2 separate regions of the Homo sapiens genome follow, and region 2 is linked to region 1. Evidence: fine-mapped expression QTL. Tissue or cell type: whole blood. Region 1 holds a variant in brackets; the other region holds the start of a gene. All regions are shown on one strand. Distances are between the middles of the regions.

The links. PIP is the estimated chance that this variant, and not a neighbour inherited with it, causes the effect.
Region 2: it holds the start of CNIH4, and the variant in region 1 is fine-mapped to the expression of CNIH4 in whole blood (TOPMed, PIP 0.98).

What each region holds. Positions count from the first base shown.
Region 1 is chr1:224,465,241-224,473,348 of GRCh38, reverse strand. It overlaps a transcript of CNIH3 not described here. Among named protein-coding and RNA genes, the nearest start is that of WDR26, 34 kb to the right of the region's middle. The variant T/A (reference allele first, on the strand shown) is at 4,835.
Region 2 is chr1:224,352,659-224,360,766 of GRCh38, reverse strand. CNIH4 (cornichon family member 4) reads right to left here and starts at 3,888. Exons shown (of 5, transcript NM_014184.4): 1 at 3,774-3,888; 2 at 204-272. The coding sequence starts at 3,842. RefSeq lists enhancers at 3,038-3,538, 4,096-4,235 and a silencer at 3,446-3,815.

The sequences.
Region 1 (8,108 bases):
ACCAATTACTTATTTTATTGATAAGTAAGGACTTATTCCTGTCATTTTGTTGTTTCCTGGTTGTTTTATGGTCTTCTCTTATTTCCTTCCTTCCTGTCTTCCTTTTAGTGAAGGTGATGATTTTCTTGTGGTATGTTTTAATTTTTTGCTTTTTAATTTTTGTGTATCCATTGTACGTTTTTAAATTTGAGGTTACCATGAGGCTTGCAAATAATATCTTCCAAACCCATTATTTTATTTATTTTTTTAAATACAAACTAAGGCTTTTTCTTCAATTATCTCTATCATCCACAGTAAAAGGAAATAAGTCACCTGCAACTGATGCCAAACCCTCCTGCCAATGAGAGATAAGCAGCTCTGGGTAATTTCACATAGCCCAGCAAAGACAGTTTCCTTGAATTCTTATGAAAAATTGGCCCTAAAATCTATCAGGATGACTTATTCATGAGAATCATCTGAGATACCCATTATAAATATAGTTGTCCAGAATCTTAGGTGGTTGTGGGAGAGGAAAGCTCCTGTAATTCTGAATTTTGTGGTTTTTGATTTTTAATTTTTTTATTTCAATAGGATTTTTGGGGAACAGGTGGTGTCTGGTTACATGAATAAGTTCTTTAGTGGTGATTTCTGAGATTGTGGTGCACTCATCACCCTAGCAGTGTACACTGTGCCCAGCGTGTAGTCTTTTATCCCTCACCATCCTCAATCCTTTTCCCCAGGTCCCCAAAGTCCAATGTATCATTCTTATGCCTTTGCGTCCTGATAGCTTAGCTCCCACATATTAGTAAGAATATATAATGTTTGGTTTTCCATTCCTGAGTTACTTCACTTAGAATAATAATTTCCAATTCCATCCAGGTTGCTGCGAATGTCATTATTTCTCTCCTTTTTATGGCTGAGTAGTATTCCATGATGTATACATATATACCATGTTTTCTTTATCCACTTATAGATTAATGGACATTTGGGCAGGTTCCATATTTTTGAAATTGTGAATTGTGCTGCTATAAACATGCATGTGCAAGTATCTTTTTTATATAATGACTTCTATTATCATATAGAAAATGTGATATCACTTCATTTTAAATGGTTTTTATGCAAAAGACAGGCAATAACAAATGCTGGTGAGGATGTAGAGAAAAGGGAATCCTTATACACTGCTGGTGGGAATGTAAATTAGTACAACCACTATGAAGAACAATTTGGAGGTTCCTCAAAAAAACAAAAATAGAGCTATCATATGATCCAGACATCCCATTGCTAGGGAAATACCCACCCTCCCAAAAAAAGGAAATCAGTATATCGAAGAGATATCTGCACTTCCATGTTTACTGCAGCACTATTGACAATAGCCAAGATTTGGAAGCAACCTAAGTGTCTATGAACAAATGAATGGATAAAGAAAATGTGGTACATATACACAATGGAGTACTATTCAGCTATAAAAAAAAGAATGAGAGGCCGGGCACGGTGGCTCACACCTGTAATCCCAGCACTTTGGGAGGCCGAGGCCGGTGGATCATGAGGTCAGGAGTTCAAGACCAGCCTGGCCAAGATGGTGAAAGCCCGTCTCTACTAAAAATACAAAAAAATTAGCCAGGCATGGTGGCAGGTACCCGTAGTCCCAGCTACTTAGGAGGCTGCAGCAGAGAACTGCTTGAACCCAGGAGGCGTAGGTTGCGGTGAGCCGAGATCACGCCACTGCACTCCAGCCTGGGTGACAGAGCGAGACTCCATCTCAAAAAAAAAAAAAAAGAGAGAATGAGATTCTGTCATTTGCAACAACATGAACAGAACTGGAGGTAGTTATGTTAAGGAAATAAGCTAGGCACTGAAAGACAAACTTTGCGTATTCTTACTTATTTGTAGGAGCTAAAGATTAAAACAACTGAACTCATGGAGATAGAGCGTACAATGATGGTTACCAGAAGCTGGGAAGGGTAGTGGGGGAGTGGGGAGGAAGAGGGGATGGTTAATGGGTACAAAAAAATAGAATGAATGAATAAGAGCTAGTATTTCTGCCAGGCACTGTGGTTCACGCCTGGAATCCCAGCACCTTGGGAGGCCAAGGCGGGCAGATCACATGAGGTCAGGAGTTCTGGTCTCGAACTCCTGACCCTGTCTCTACTAAAAATATAAAACATGAGCTGGATGTGGTGGCGTATGCCTATAGTCCCAGCTACCCGGGAGGCTGAGGCAGGAGAATCACTTGAACCCAGCTTGCAGTGAGCTGAGATTGTGCCACTGCACTCCAGCCTGGGCAACAGAACAAGACCTCATCTAAAACAAACAAACAAACAAACAAAAAACCTAGTATTTGCTAGCACAACGAGGTGACTATAGTAAAAAATAATTTAATTGTACACTTTTAAATAATTAAAAGAGTACAACTAGATTGTTTGTAACACAAACGATAAATTCTTGAGGTTATGGATATCTCATTTATCCTGATGTGATTATTACATATTGTATGTCTGTATCAAAATAGCTCGTGTACACCATAAATATACATACCTACTATGTACCCCCAAAAAAGAAACAATGCAAGCAAGAAGACAATGGAACAACATCTTTAAAGAACTGAAAGAGATGGCCAGGCATGGTGGCTTGTGCCTGTAAACCCAGCGCTTTGGGAGACCGAAGTGGGAGGATCACTTGAGCCCAAGAGTTCAAAACATAGGCAGATCCCATTTTTACAAATAAACAAAAAACAATAACAACTGAAAGAGGGCTGGGTGTGGTGGCTCACACCTGTAATCCCAACACTTTGAAAGGCCGAGGCAGAAGGGTCACTTGAGGCCAGGAGCTGAAGACCAGCCTGGGCCAGACAAGGAGACCCTTGTCTCTACAAAAAAAGTTTTACAAAATTAGCTGGGCCTGGTGGCACACACCTGTAGCCCTAGGTACTTGAGAGGATGAGGCAGGAGAACCACTTGAGTCCAAGAAGGCTGCAGTGAGCTACGATCGTGCCACTGCACTCCATCCTGGGTGACAGAGTGAGACACTACCTCTTAAAAAAAAAAAAAAAAAAGGCCAGGCACAGTGGCTCATGCCTGTAATCCCAACACTTCGGGAGGCCGAGGCAGGTAGCTCACAAGGTCAGGAGATCGAGACTATCCTGGCTAACACAGTGAAACCCCGTCTCTACTAAAAATACAAAAAATTAGCCGGGCATGGTGGCGGGTGCCTGTAATCCCAGCTACTCAGGAGGCTGAGGCAGGAAAATGGCATGAACCCGGGAAGCAGAGCTTGCAGTGAGCCGAGATCGCGCCACTGAACTCCAGCCTGGGCAACAAAGCGAGACTCTGTCTCCAAAAAAAAAAAAGAAGAAGAAGAATAACTGAAAGAAAGAACTGCCAAGTTTAAATTATACACCCAGTTTTTTAAAAACCATATTTCAAAAATGAAAATAAAGATGTTTTCAGATTTTTTTTAAATCTGGCAGAATTCATCACTACCAGACTTTAAAAAATATTAAAGGAAGGCCTGAAAGTAGAAGGAAAATGATACCACATGGAAATATTGATCTAACCAAAGGAATGAAGAGTGTCAGAAATGGTTACCACACAGGTAAAATATGTAAGATGTTTTTCCTATTATTTATGTCTCTTTAAGAGATAATTGAGTCCTCAACAAAATATTAATAAATTAAATTCAGCAATATCAAAAAAGAATTAGCCAGGAATGATGGCACATGCCTGTGGTCCCAGCTACTTGGGAGGCTGAGGCGGAGGGATTGCTTGAGCCTGAAGTTTGAGATTACAATTAGCTATGATTTGCACCACTGCGCTCCAGTCTGGGTGACAGAGCAAGACTCTGTCGCTATAAAACAAATAAATAATAAAAAATTCTTTAAAATTATACATCATAACCAAGTTGGACTTATTACAGGTATGCAAGGCCAGTTCAATATTTGAAAATCAGTCAATATAACCCATCATATCAACAGGCTAAAGAAGAAAAATCAGGCTGGGCAGAGTGGCTCACACCTGTAATCCCAGCAGTTTGGGAGGCCAAGGTGGAAGGATCATTTGAGTCCAGGAGTTCAAGACCAGCCTGGGAAATATAGCAAAATCCTGTCTCTACAAAAAAAATTAAAAATTAGCTGGGCATGGTGGCATGCACCTGAAGCTCCAGCTTCTCAAGAGGCTGAGGTGGGAGGATCACTTGACGCCAGAAAGTAAAGGCTGCAGTGAGCCATGATTGCACCACTAAACTCCAGCCTGAGTGACAGAACAAGACCCTGTCTAAAAAATAAAATAAAATAAAAAAGAAGAAAAGTCATATGACCATATTGATATAGAAAAAGCATTTTACAAAATCCAGTTCCCATTCACGTGCACAAAAAAAAAAAAGTTTCACAAACTAGGATTAGAGAGGAACTGACTCAACTTGATAGAGAGCATCTACCAAAAAACTACAGGTAACAGCATAATTAGTGGTGAAAGACTGAAAGACTGAATGCTTTCCCCCTAATATCAGGAACATGGCATCACCATTCTTTCTTTTTTTTTTTTTTTTTTTGAGACAGGGTCTCACTCTGTCACGCAGGCTGGAGTGCAGTGGCAGTGGCATGATCATAGTTCACTGCAGCCTTTAACTCCTGGCCTCAAGTGATGCTCCCACCTTCTCCTACCACAGACGTACTCTCATCATTCTTATTCAACACAGTACTGAAAGTTCTAGCCTATGCAATAAAGAAAGAAAAACAATAAATGCAGACAGATTGGAAAGAAAGAAATAAAATTGTCCCTATTTGTAGATGACAATTATCTACACAGAAAATCCTAATAAATCTATTTTTAACTGCAATTTTAAAAATTAATAAGGAAGG[T/A]CACTGGACACAGAATCAACACACAAAAATCAACAAACATGTAGAAACCAAAGCTGAAAACACAATACCATTTACAATTGCTACAAAGCAAATGAAATACTTAGTTATAAATCTAACAAAACATGTATAAGAGCTGTATGCTGAAAATTACAAAATGTTGATGAAAGAAATCACAGAAGACCTAAATAAATAGAAATACTGTGTTTATGACTTAGAAAACTCAACACTAAAAACATCAATTTTTCCCAAATTGATTTACATAATTCCTATCCAAATTCCAGCAAGGCTTCTTATAGATATAAATAACTTATTCTAAAATTTATATGGAAAGGTAAAGGACCTAAAATAGTTACGACAATTTTGAAAAAGAAGAATGTTGTAAGAAGAATCATTCTACCCAATGTTAAGGCTTACTAAATAACTTCAGTAATCAAGACAGTAGAGTACTGGTGGAAGAATAAATATGTAGATCAATGAAATATAATAGAGGAAACAATAGAATCACAAAAGAATGTACAACTGATTTTTTTAAAGAAAAAAGGTACAAACATGATTTAATAGAGGAAGGACGGCCCTTTCAACAATTGGTGAAGAAAAAAAAAAAGTCTGTAGGCCAAGAAAAAAAAAGAAGAGCCTCATACCTTTTACAAAAATTAACTTAAAATGAATCATTGATTTAAACATACCATGTAAAACTATGAAACTTTTGGAAAAAAAAAAAACAGGAGGAAATCTTCAAAACCTACGGCTGGGAGAACAGTACTTCAACTTGATATCAAAACTATGATCCCAGCCAGGCGCAGTGGCTCATGCCTGTAATCCCAGCAATATGGGAGGTCGAAGTGAGTGGATCACCTGAGGTCAGGAGTTCGAGACCAGCCTGGCCAATATGGTGAAACCCCGTCTCTACTAAAAATACAAAAATTAGCCGGGCTTGGTGGCACCTGCCTGTAATCCCAGCAACTCAGGAGGCTGAGGCAGGAGAATTGCTTGAACCCAGGAGGCAGAGGTTGCAGTGAGCTGAGATCGCACTATTGCACTCCAGCCTAGGCAATGAGAGCAAAACAAAAACAAACAAACAAACAAACAAAAACTATGATCCAGGAAAACTTGATAAATTGGACCTCTTAAGAATTAGAAAATTTTGCTCTGTGAAAGCTCCTGTTAAGAGAATGAAAAGAGCCAGGCATAGTGGCTCACGCCTGTATTCACAGCACTTTGGGAGGCAGAGGTGGGCAGATGGCTTGAGTCTAGCAGTTCAAGATCAGCCTCAGCAACATTTCCAGCAGTTCAAGAAATGTCTCTACAAAAAACAGAAAAAATTAGCTGGGTATGGTGGCACACACCTGTAGTCCCAGCCACGTGAGAGGCTGGGGTGGGATGATCACTTGAGCCCAGGAGGTCAAGGCTGCAATGAGCCATGATCACACCACTGCACTCCAGCATGGGTAACAGAGTGAAACCCTGTCTCAAGAGAATGAAAAGATAAATTACAGACTGGGAGAAAATATTTGCAAGCCAAATATCCAACAAAGGATTTAGTATCTAGAATATAAAGAATTTCCAAAACTCAACAGTAGAAAAGCAAACAATATAATTAGCAAGTGTACTAAAAACATTTCACTGAGGAGTAGATACAGGTAACAAGCTAATAAAAAGATGTTCAACCTCAGTGATTAGGGCAATCTAAATTAAAACCACAATGCATTATCACTACATGCCTAACAGAGTGATAAAATAAAAAATGTCAAATTCTGGCAAGGATATGGGAAAAACTGGATCACTCTTACATGGCTGGCAGGAATGTAGAATGGGATAGCTACTCTGGAAAATATTTTGGCATTTTCTTTTAAAACTAAAAGTGCACTTACCATACAACCCAGCAATTGCACCCTTGGGCATTTATCCCAGGCAAATGAAAACCTATATGCGCTCTGCAATCTATACATGAATGTTGATAACAACTCTATTTATAATAGCCAAGAACTAGATACCACCCAAATGTCCTTCAATGTATAAATGGTTGAAGAAACTGTAGTACATCCATACCACAGATACTACTCTGCAACATAAAGGAAAAAACTACGATAGAATTAGGCCTTGGCTGGTTCTCAAGGGAATTATGCTGATTGATTTTTTTAAAAAGCTACAGACTGTATGACACTACATAAGTGATTCCATTTACGTAATGTATTTGAATAACAATATTAAAAGATGGAGAACAGAAGAATGGCTGCTGGGGTTATGGACTGGGGAGAAAGAAGGTAGATGTGACTATAAAAGCATCAGGGAGGCTTATGGTGATGAAATGGGTCTGTATCTTGATTGTGGTGGCAATTACACAAAGCTACATGTATGATAAAACTGCATAGAACTACATACACACACAAATGAGTGCATGTGTAACTGGTAAAATCTGACTAAACCCTGTGGATTGTACTAATGCCAATTTCTGGGTTTTTGTTTTTCGTTTTTTGTGTTTTTTTGAGAAGGAGTTTCATTCTCATCACCCAGGCTGGAGTGCAATGGCGAGATCTCAGCTCACTGCAACCTCCGCCTCCCAGGCTCAAGCGATTCTCCTGCCTCAGCCTCCCGAGTAGCTGAGATTACAGGTGCCCGACACCATGCCCGGCTCATTTTTGTATTTTTAGTGGAGATGGGGTTTCACTATGTTGGCCAGGCTGGTCTCAAACTCCTGACATCAGGTGATCTGCCTGCCTCAGCCTCCCAAAGTGCTGTGGTTACAGGCGTGAGCCACAGCACCCGCCCAATTTCCTGGTTTTGATACGGTATGTAGTTATGCAAAATGTCAACATTGAGGGAGGAGGGGTGAAGGATGCACAGGACCTTTCTATACATTTATTTGCAATATCCCGTTTATAATTATTTCAAAATAAAACATCTAAAAAAGAAAACTGGCTGTTCAAGCAAAAATAATAGTATAGACTGTGGTTTATAACAAATGTGTAAGTAAAACGTATGACAACAACAGCATAAAAGCTATGAGGAGGGAAACAAAGGTAGACTCCTGTAAACTTATGTTATGTGTGAAGTGATACAATATAACTTGAAGGTAGACTGTGATGAGTTAAAGATAATTCTAACCAGCCAGGCATGGTGGGTCACACCGGTAATCCTAGCACTTTGGGAGGCCAAGGTGGGCAGATGACCTGAGGTCGGGAGTTCGAGACCAGCCTGACCAACACGGAGAAACCCCGTCTCTACTAAAAATACAAAATCAGTCAGGTGTGGTGGTGCATGCCTGTAATCCCAG
Region 2 (8,108 bases), 110 kb after region 1:
AAAGAAACAAAATTTCAAGTCAGATCTTCTAGCATAATTTCATGATCTAAAATATTGTAAAACACAGCAGTTCCATCAAATTTCCAATGAATAAGAGACAACATGTACTCTAAAATCAAAAATACATCTGTTATCTATAATAATCTTAAGTATGGAAAATGACCTGGCTTCAATGCCAGAGAATGAGCAAAGAAATGTCTTACCTTGTTTAATTTTGAGCAACATGATCTAGCATTAATGTAATCACATTCTAAATCAGACAATGTAATTATCTGATGATCAAGATAAGGAATTATTATATTTCTTTTATAATAACTAAGTATTTAAGTTTCAGAAAGCAATCCCAGTTACAAGGCAGAATTAGATTTGACTTGAAAAAAATGAGTTGTTTCCTAAAGTTTGCTCATTAGACAACTCAATTTTCCCATTCATGTTCCTTCAACAAATTATTTTACAAAATAATCCTATTTTGCTCAAATCTAATCTGACCCAACCAGAACATTTAGTTTGAGTTCTTCAAATGTAAAACAATGGCTATTAAAAAAAAAAAAATGGGAAATATCCCAGCACTTTGGGAAGCTGAGGCAGGAGGATCGCCTGAAGCAGGAGTTCAAGATCAGCATAGGCAACATAGCAAGCCTCCATCTCTTTCACCCAGGCTGTAGTGCAGTGGCGCAATTCCAACGCACTGCTACCCCTGCCTCCTGGGTTCAAGCAATTCTTGTGCCTCAGCCTTCCAAGTAGCTGGAACTATAGGTGCGCGCCACCACCACACCCAGCTAATTTTTTGTATTTTTAGTAGAGACGGGGTTTCACTATGTTAGCCAGGCTGGTCTCGAACTCCTGGCTTCAAGTGATTCACTCACCTCACCCCCATCTCTACAAATTTTTTCTTTTTTTTTCATTAGCCGGGCATGAGCACCTGTAATGCTAGCTATTAGTAGCAGTACTGCTAAGGTGAGGCAGCAAAATGCCTAGAGCCCAGGATTCACGTTACACTGAGCTATAATCACACCAGTGCGCTCCAGTCTGAGCAGCAGATTTGGTAGGCACTTGTAGTCTCAGTTACTTGAGAGGCTGAGGCAGGAGAATCGCTTGAACCCAGGAGATGGAGGCAGCAGTAAGCCAAGATTGCGCCACTGCACTCCAGCCTGGGTGACAGTGAGACTCTGTCTCAAAAATAAACATGAAAATAAAATAAAGTCAAACTCATCACTTTCTCCACAGATTGATCTTCCTCCAATTTGTTTTATTTCTGTTACTGACACAAGTATCACTTGCCCAGGATCAAAATATGGAAAGCTATCTCTGCCTTCTGTTTCATATATCATAATCACTCATTTGTAGGTCCTGGCAATCATTTCTTCTAAATACTACTCACATATTCCCTCCTTTCACCTGCCCACAACCAGCACTCTATTTGAAATCCAGACGACCCTATCCAGTTGGTTTATCTTCCAATCTTTCTTGTTTCCAACCCACTCGGCAGATTCATCTTCCTAATAAACTACCGAAAATAAAAATTTTCAATGGCTCTCTATTGCCTGCAGGATAAAAGTGAAAGACTTCCCTCCCACCCTTAACATTCAAGCCCTCCAAAATCTGATGTAATCCTGCCTTTCCAACTTAGCCTTCTACTGACGCCAAAATCAACCATGTGCTCCAGATGGTCTATTCGTTAACCATAGCCCAGAAATCCACGAACATACCTGTCTCTGCACCTTCGCTCTTGCCAGTGTCTGATTTGGAATATTCACCTCTTCCCCTTCCTGTAGATTTTGTCCACAGTTCAAAGTCCAAGAAAACTCTTATATCCTATATTAAGTCTACCGTGACCATTTTCCACCTCCTATCCCTAAGTTAGTGCAACTATTCTAAAATACAGAATATGCTGAATTTCATCAAAACACCCCCCGAATGTATTTTAATGTAATGTCTAAGTCAAACATTCCACCTACCATTTCTCTAAATGCATAAATTGGTGTAAACCAGGGCTATTTAAAATTATCAAGCCTGGTTTTCCAAACTGCAAAAAGAAAAAACCCAGCTACATTTCTGAGCATAAGCTCTAGTTCAGGGGTGTCCAATCTTTTGGCTTCCCTGGGCCACACTGGAAGAAGAATTGCCTTGGGCCACACATAAAATACACTAATACTAATGATAGCTGATGAACTTAAAAAAAAATCACCAAAAAAGAATCATAATGTTTTAAGAAAGTTTACAAATTTGTGTTGGGCCACATTCAAAGCTGTCCTGGACCACATGCAGCCCGTGGGCCGTGGGTTGGACAAGCTTGCTCTAGTTCCTTATATCACAAGAGGGGCATAGAGGTCATCAAAACTTAGGCAAGTGATGCTGCCCTTTCAATCAGCTCCCCAAACCTACTAAAACTCAGAAATCTTGTCGTTAGATATCATCAAAGTAAAAACTGCTGCTCAATTGGGGAGGGTGGGGACACGAAGGCAGAGCAATATTTACTGAACATTAGCTATGGGGCAGGCACTGTGCTAGGGTGCTCAGCACCATTCTCATTGTGCATATCTAGGAAATAAACATTTCCTATTTTAAAGATCAGAAAACTGAGGCTTAGGGAAATAATGTGCAAGCAAAGAGCTAGCTGACCAGGAAATCTGATTCCAAATTTTGTCCCTTTCCACTACAACAGGATGCCAGTCCACAATGAAAAATGAAGCTGCACTGAACATATACTCTGTACGACTATCCTAAAGCCCGCATGCTCTAGCAAACAAATGGTTTAATCCGATCAGAAACAGGTACATGTGATTTCCAAGAAAGGAAGCTGAAATGCGGAGTTCCTCATACGTTTTTTCTTATATTTAATTACTTAAACCTGGATGGTGCAATACAACATTGGGCAACAACTAAGCCTAGATGCTTTGTCAAGAGATGGGAAGAGTTGTAGCCGACATGGCTACTGCAGTGCTAAATTCAACCACCATTTATTGCTCTGGAAAACAGTTTGAATACTGCAACTTAAGTTTTAACATGGATCGATAGAAAAATTTAAAAGCTGAGAAACGATTGGGAACTACAGCAGATGTAGTTATTGAATTTACAGATCTGCAACCACCGGGGACAACCAAAATAATCACTTTGTAGACAGTTGTTAAAACAACTCCTTTCCAACACTCACTACAAAACGGCACAGTGAAGGAAGCAACTTCGCTCCTTTGGCGAATGAGTCAACTCCTGGATGTGAAAGGTCCCTGCAAGTACTAACACCCGCCAGAACAAAGGGGCGGGTGCCGGGGGTGTTGCGTGGGGAACAGGAGGAGGCAAATGGCCCGCACTTATCCCGGCACCCGACTGTCGCAAGCGACCGCCCTTGGGACCCCCAATATCCGACGAAGAGCACGGCGCAGGGCCTCTCCCAGAAAAACAGCGACGCTTCTCTCCCGAGGGCGGCCGTGGCTCAGGCAGGGCTGGTCCGGGCGCCGCGGGGACGAGCGGAGAGCAGGCGGGCAGGCCGAGACGGGGCGCGCCCGGAGAGGCCCACTCGGACCCGAGTGAGGGGCGGCCGGCAACCCAGGCAGGGCAAGTGCGTGCAGGGCAGCAGGGCCCGTCGGGTAGGGCAGCCAGCCTCTCCTACCCGCTCCGGGGCCCGCGCCACCGCCCCGGCCAGGCCAGCTCCCAGGGAGCCCACGCCCGCCGCCGGGCGCCTCCCTAGTCCCACACACCTGCCCGGGTGCCCAACTGGCCCACCCTCAGCCGTGTCCCCCGGCAAGGCGTTCGCCTGCCTCAGGCAAGGATACGAAGTAGACCGAGAGGAAGATGAGCGCGCAACAATCGAGGAGAGAGAAGACGAACACCACCGCCTCCATCCTCCTCCTCCGTCGCCGCCGCTCCTTCCGTCAAACCCGCTCGGATGCCCCGACCCACCCCTGATAGGCCCTTGCCGGGGCTGGCTGAGGCGTGTGGTCCTCGAATCCTGGTGTGGCATGCCGGGAGTTGTAGTCCATATTTTAAAAAACTCTACGGCCCTAATTCTGACGCATGCTGGGAATTGTAGTTCATTAGTACAAGTCCATATCAAAGAGGTGGGCAGGGCCTCTTTCATAAATCCGATTATTTCCAGAAATGGAATTAATCAACAAGTATTTACTCAACGCTTTTCTTTTAAAGAGCTGGGGTCTTGCTCTGTCGTCCAGGCTGGAGTGCAGTGGCGTGATAGAGCTCACTATGACCTCGAATTCCTGGGCTCAAGCAATCCTTCCACCTCAGCCTCCCGACATGCCCAGCTAATTTTATTTTATTATTTCTCATTTTATTTTATTTTTTGAGACAGGGTCTCACTCTGTCGCCCAGGCTGGAGTGCAGTGGCATGGTCACAGCTCACTGCAGCCTCTACCTCCTGGCCTCAGGTGATCCTCCCACCTCCGCCTCCTGAGTACCTGGGATTACAGGAATGTACCACCACGCCTGGCTAATTTTTTGTATTTTTAATAGAGATGGGGTTTTTGCCATGTTGCCCAGGCTGGTCTCGAATTCCTCGGCTCAAGCGATCTGCCTGCCTCAGTCTCCCACAGTGCTGGAATTACAGGCCTGAGCCACTGCACCAGTCTCTACTGAACGCTTTTAATCCGGATATCCAGTAGGATGTATTTCCCATGTGTGAAATTTTCTTTAGAGTTGGCTCTAGAACCATTGCATTCCCTGACTTAGGATTTGTAAGGGGTTTTCATCTCAAAGCACAAATCTAACTTAATGCTCCTGGCTTGACTTTTGCGATTTGCCCTTCCCTTCCTGATTTCAATTTCTCCAGAGATTTCACAGTCCTTTGTTTATCCTCTCCTACAGCAATGTTTCTCTCCTCTCTAGATTTTAAGATCTTTAAGAAGTGAATACGATGTCTTACTCATCCATTCATTCATTTAACAAATACAGTTGTATTTGCAGGGGCTACTTTCCAAGACCCCCAAGTGGATGCCTGACACGATGGATAGTACCAAACCTTATGTGTACTATGTTTTTTCCTATATATACATACCTATGATAAAGCTTAATTTATAGATCAGGCACAGTAGGAGATTAACAAGTAATAATAAGATAGAACAATTATACTGTAATAAAAGTTATGTAAATGTGGTCTTTCTGTCTCAAAATATCTTATTGTACTGACCCTTCTTTTTGAGATGATGTATGATGATAAAATGCCTATGTGATAAGATGAAGAGACAGATGCAGCCTCTCCAGTGATTTTTATATTTTTCAGTCCAAATCTATTCTTACATTCATGTAACTATCCATTACTTGCAGTAAGTGGCTTGGTATCACTCGTTTTAGGGAATCCCTCACTGAAGTCTTTGTATAGGCTCAATACTTTCTGGCTCAACACGTTGCCATCAATTGGCACATGTTTTCTGTTCATGTCTTCCACCCACAAATGTAATGCCTCTTCCATCTTTTTTGTGGTTGTTGTTTTAGTTTTTCTGAGATGAAGTTCACTCTGTCACCCAGGCTGGAGTGCAGTGGCGCCATTTCAGCTCTCTGCAACCTCCACCTCCCAAGTTCAAGCGATTCTCCTGCCTCAGCCTCCGGAGTAGCTGAGATTACAGGTGCATGCCACCACACCCAGATAATTTTTTGTATTTTTAGTAGAGTTGGGGTTTCGCCATGTTGGCCAGGCTGGTCTCAAACTCCTGGCCTCAAGTGATCCACCTACCTTGACCTCCCAAAGTGCTGGGATTACAGGCATGAGCCACTGTGCTGTGCCGCCTTTTCCATCTTAACTAAGCACTTATCAGGCACTGTGGCCATAACTTTTGTAGTCTGAGTTGCAACAGCAAAACTAGCACAAATTCCTTTTTCCTTTTTCAGAAATTCACAGATAAAAGACTGGTTCTTACCATAGATCTTAGCAGTCTCATAGGGTTTTTTTTTCTTTCCTTAAGTCAAGAACTTTGACCATTTCACTTAAAGGGAGCACTTCATGGCTTCTCTTTGGCATATCTGAATTGCCAGTATTCACTGCTCTTGAACTTTGGGCCATTGTTAAGTACAATAATGGGTACTTGAACATAAGCACTGCAATACTGCTGCAGTCAATCTGATAACTGATAAGATGGCTACTACGTGACTAACAGGTAGGTGGCATAGACAGCATGGATATGCTGGACAAGGGGATAGATAATTCATGTCCCAGGCAGGATGAAGTGAGCAGCAGGAGATTTCATTACACTCCTAAGAGTGGCACACAATTTAAAATTCATGGATTGTATATTTCTGAAATTTTCCATTTAACATTTTAGGACTGTGATTGACCTCAGGTAAATGAAACCAGTGAAAGCAAAACTGTGGATGAGACTGCTGTATTTACTGACAACACACCTGCTATAGGCCAAGAACTGCTCTAGACTCCAGAGATATAAAAATAAACAAGGCAAACAAGTTGCTGCTCTAGTAGGGTGAGTGGGAGGAACAGGCAATAAAGTATAACAAAGTATGGGAAAAAGATAACTTCAAGCAGTGATAAGCTCTGTGAGCGGTTGTGTCAAAGTTATTTATTCATTCAACCAATATTTTCTGAGCAGCCAGAATATATGAGCTACTGTTCCAAACCTTGGGAAAAGTCCCCACAAGCCTGTGGTTTACATTACAGTGAGAAAGACAGACGACAAAATAAATATACTAATGACAGGCAGTCATAAGTACTTGGAAGGGGATGGGGAAAGACGGAGTGATCAGAGAAAGCCAAGCTGAGGAAATGACACTTAAGTAGAAATTTGAACAATAGCTATGTGAAGGTCTGCGGGCAGAATGTTTCAGAAAGTAGGAACAATAATTTCAGAGGCCCAGTTGTATATAGAGGCTTGATGTGTTAAAGGAATAGAAAAAAAGACTACTGTGGTCTTGTGGCTAAAGCACAGGGGAAAAGGGTGAGAGAGTGCTGAGAGGAAGAGAAGGAGGCAGGGTAAGGTTATATGGGCCCTGTAGACCCTTGGCAAGGATTTTTATCCTAATATGATGAGAAACCACTGCAGAGTTCTAAGCAAAAAAGTAGCTTAATCTGATTTACATTTTTAAAATCTCATTCTGGCTATTTAGCGCACTGAATGTGTGAAAGGGAAACAAGTTTGTCAGCAGGGAGATCACATGGAGAGTAGAACAGGAGAATTACTATGAAGGCAAAACCAACTGAGCCGGGCGCGGTGATTCACGCCTGTAATCCTAGCACTTTGGGAGGCCGAGGCGGGCGGATCACCTGAGGTCGGGAGTTCGAGACCAGCCTGACCAACACGGAGAAACCCCGTCTCTACTAAAAATACAAAATTAGCCAGGGGTGGTGGTGCATGCCTGTAATCCCAGCTACTTGGGAGGCTGAGGCAGGAGAATCACTTGAACCCAGGAGGTGGAGGTTGCAGTGAGCTGAGATTGCTCCATTGCACTCCAGCCTGGGCAACAAAATGAAACTATGTCTCAAAAAAATAAGCAAACAACAACAACAAAAAACACAAAAACCCAACTGGATTTGCCTGATGCAGTACAGGTTCATAGATTCATAAAGGGTTCACAGGTTAAAGCTAGACATACAATTAACAGATTATCTAATTAATTAAACCAGCTATTACCAAACTCCCATTGTACCTTGTACATATCTCTATCAGAATATTCATTACATACTCAGTTATCTTAAGGTGAAAAAAAATACTCATCAACTATCTTCCTTATGTGCTTAGCCAGTCACACTGAGGGGTGACAGCGTGCTGGCAATCGTCACAGCCCTCACTCGCTCTCGCTCGCTCTCGGCGCCTCCTCTGCCTGGGCTCCCACTTTGGCGCCACTTGAGGAGTCCTTCAGCCCGCCGCTGCACTGTGGGAGCCCCCTTCTGGGCTGGCCAAGGCCGGAGCCGGCTCCCTCAGCTTGCGGGGAGGTGTGGAGGCAGAGGCGCGGGCGGGAACCGGGGCTGCGTGCTGTGCTTGTGGGCCAGCGCGAGTTCTGGGTGGGCGTAGGCTCGTCGGGCCCTGCACTGGGAGCTGCCAGCCGGCCCCGCGGGCCCCGCCGGCCCTGGGCAGTGAGAGGCTTAGCACCTGGGCCAGCAGCTGCTGTGCTCAATTTCTCACCGGGCCTTAGTTGCCTTCCCGCCGGGC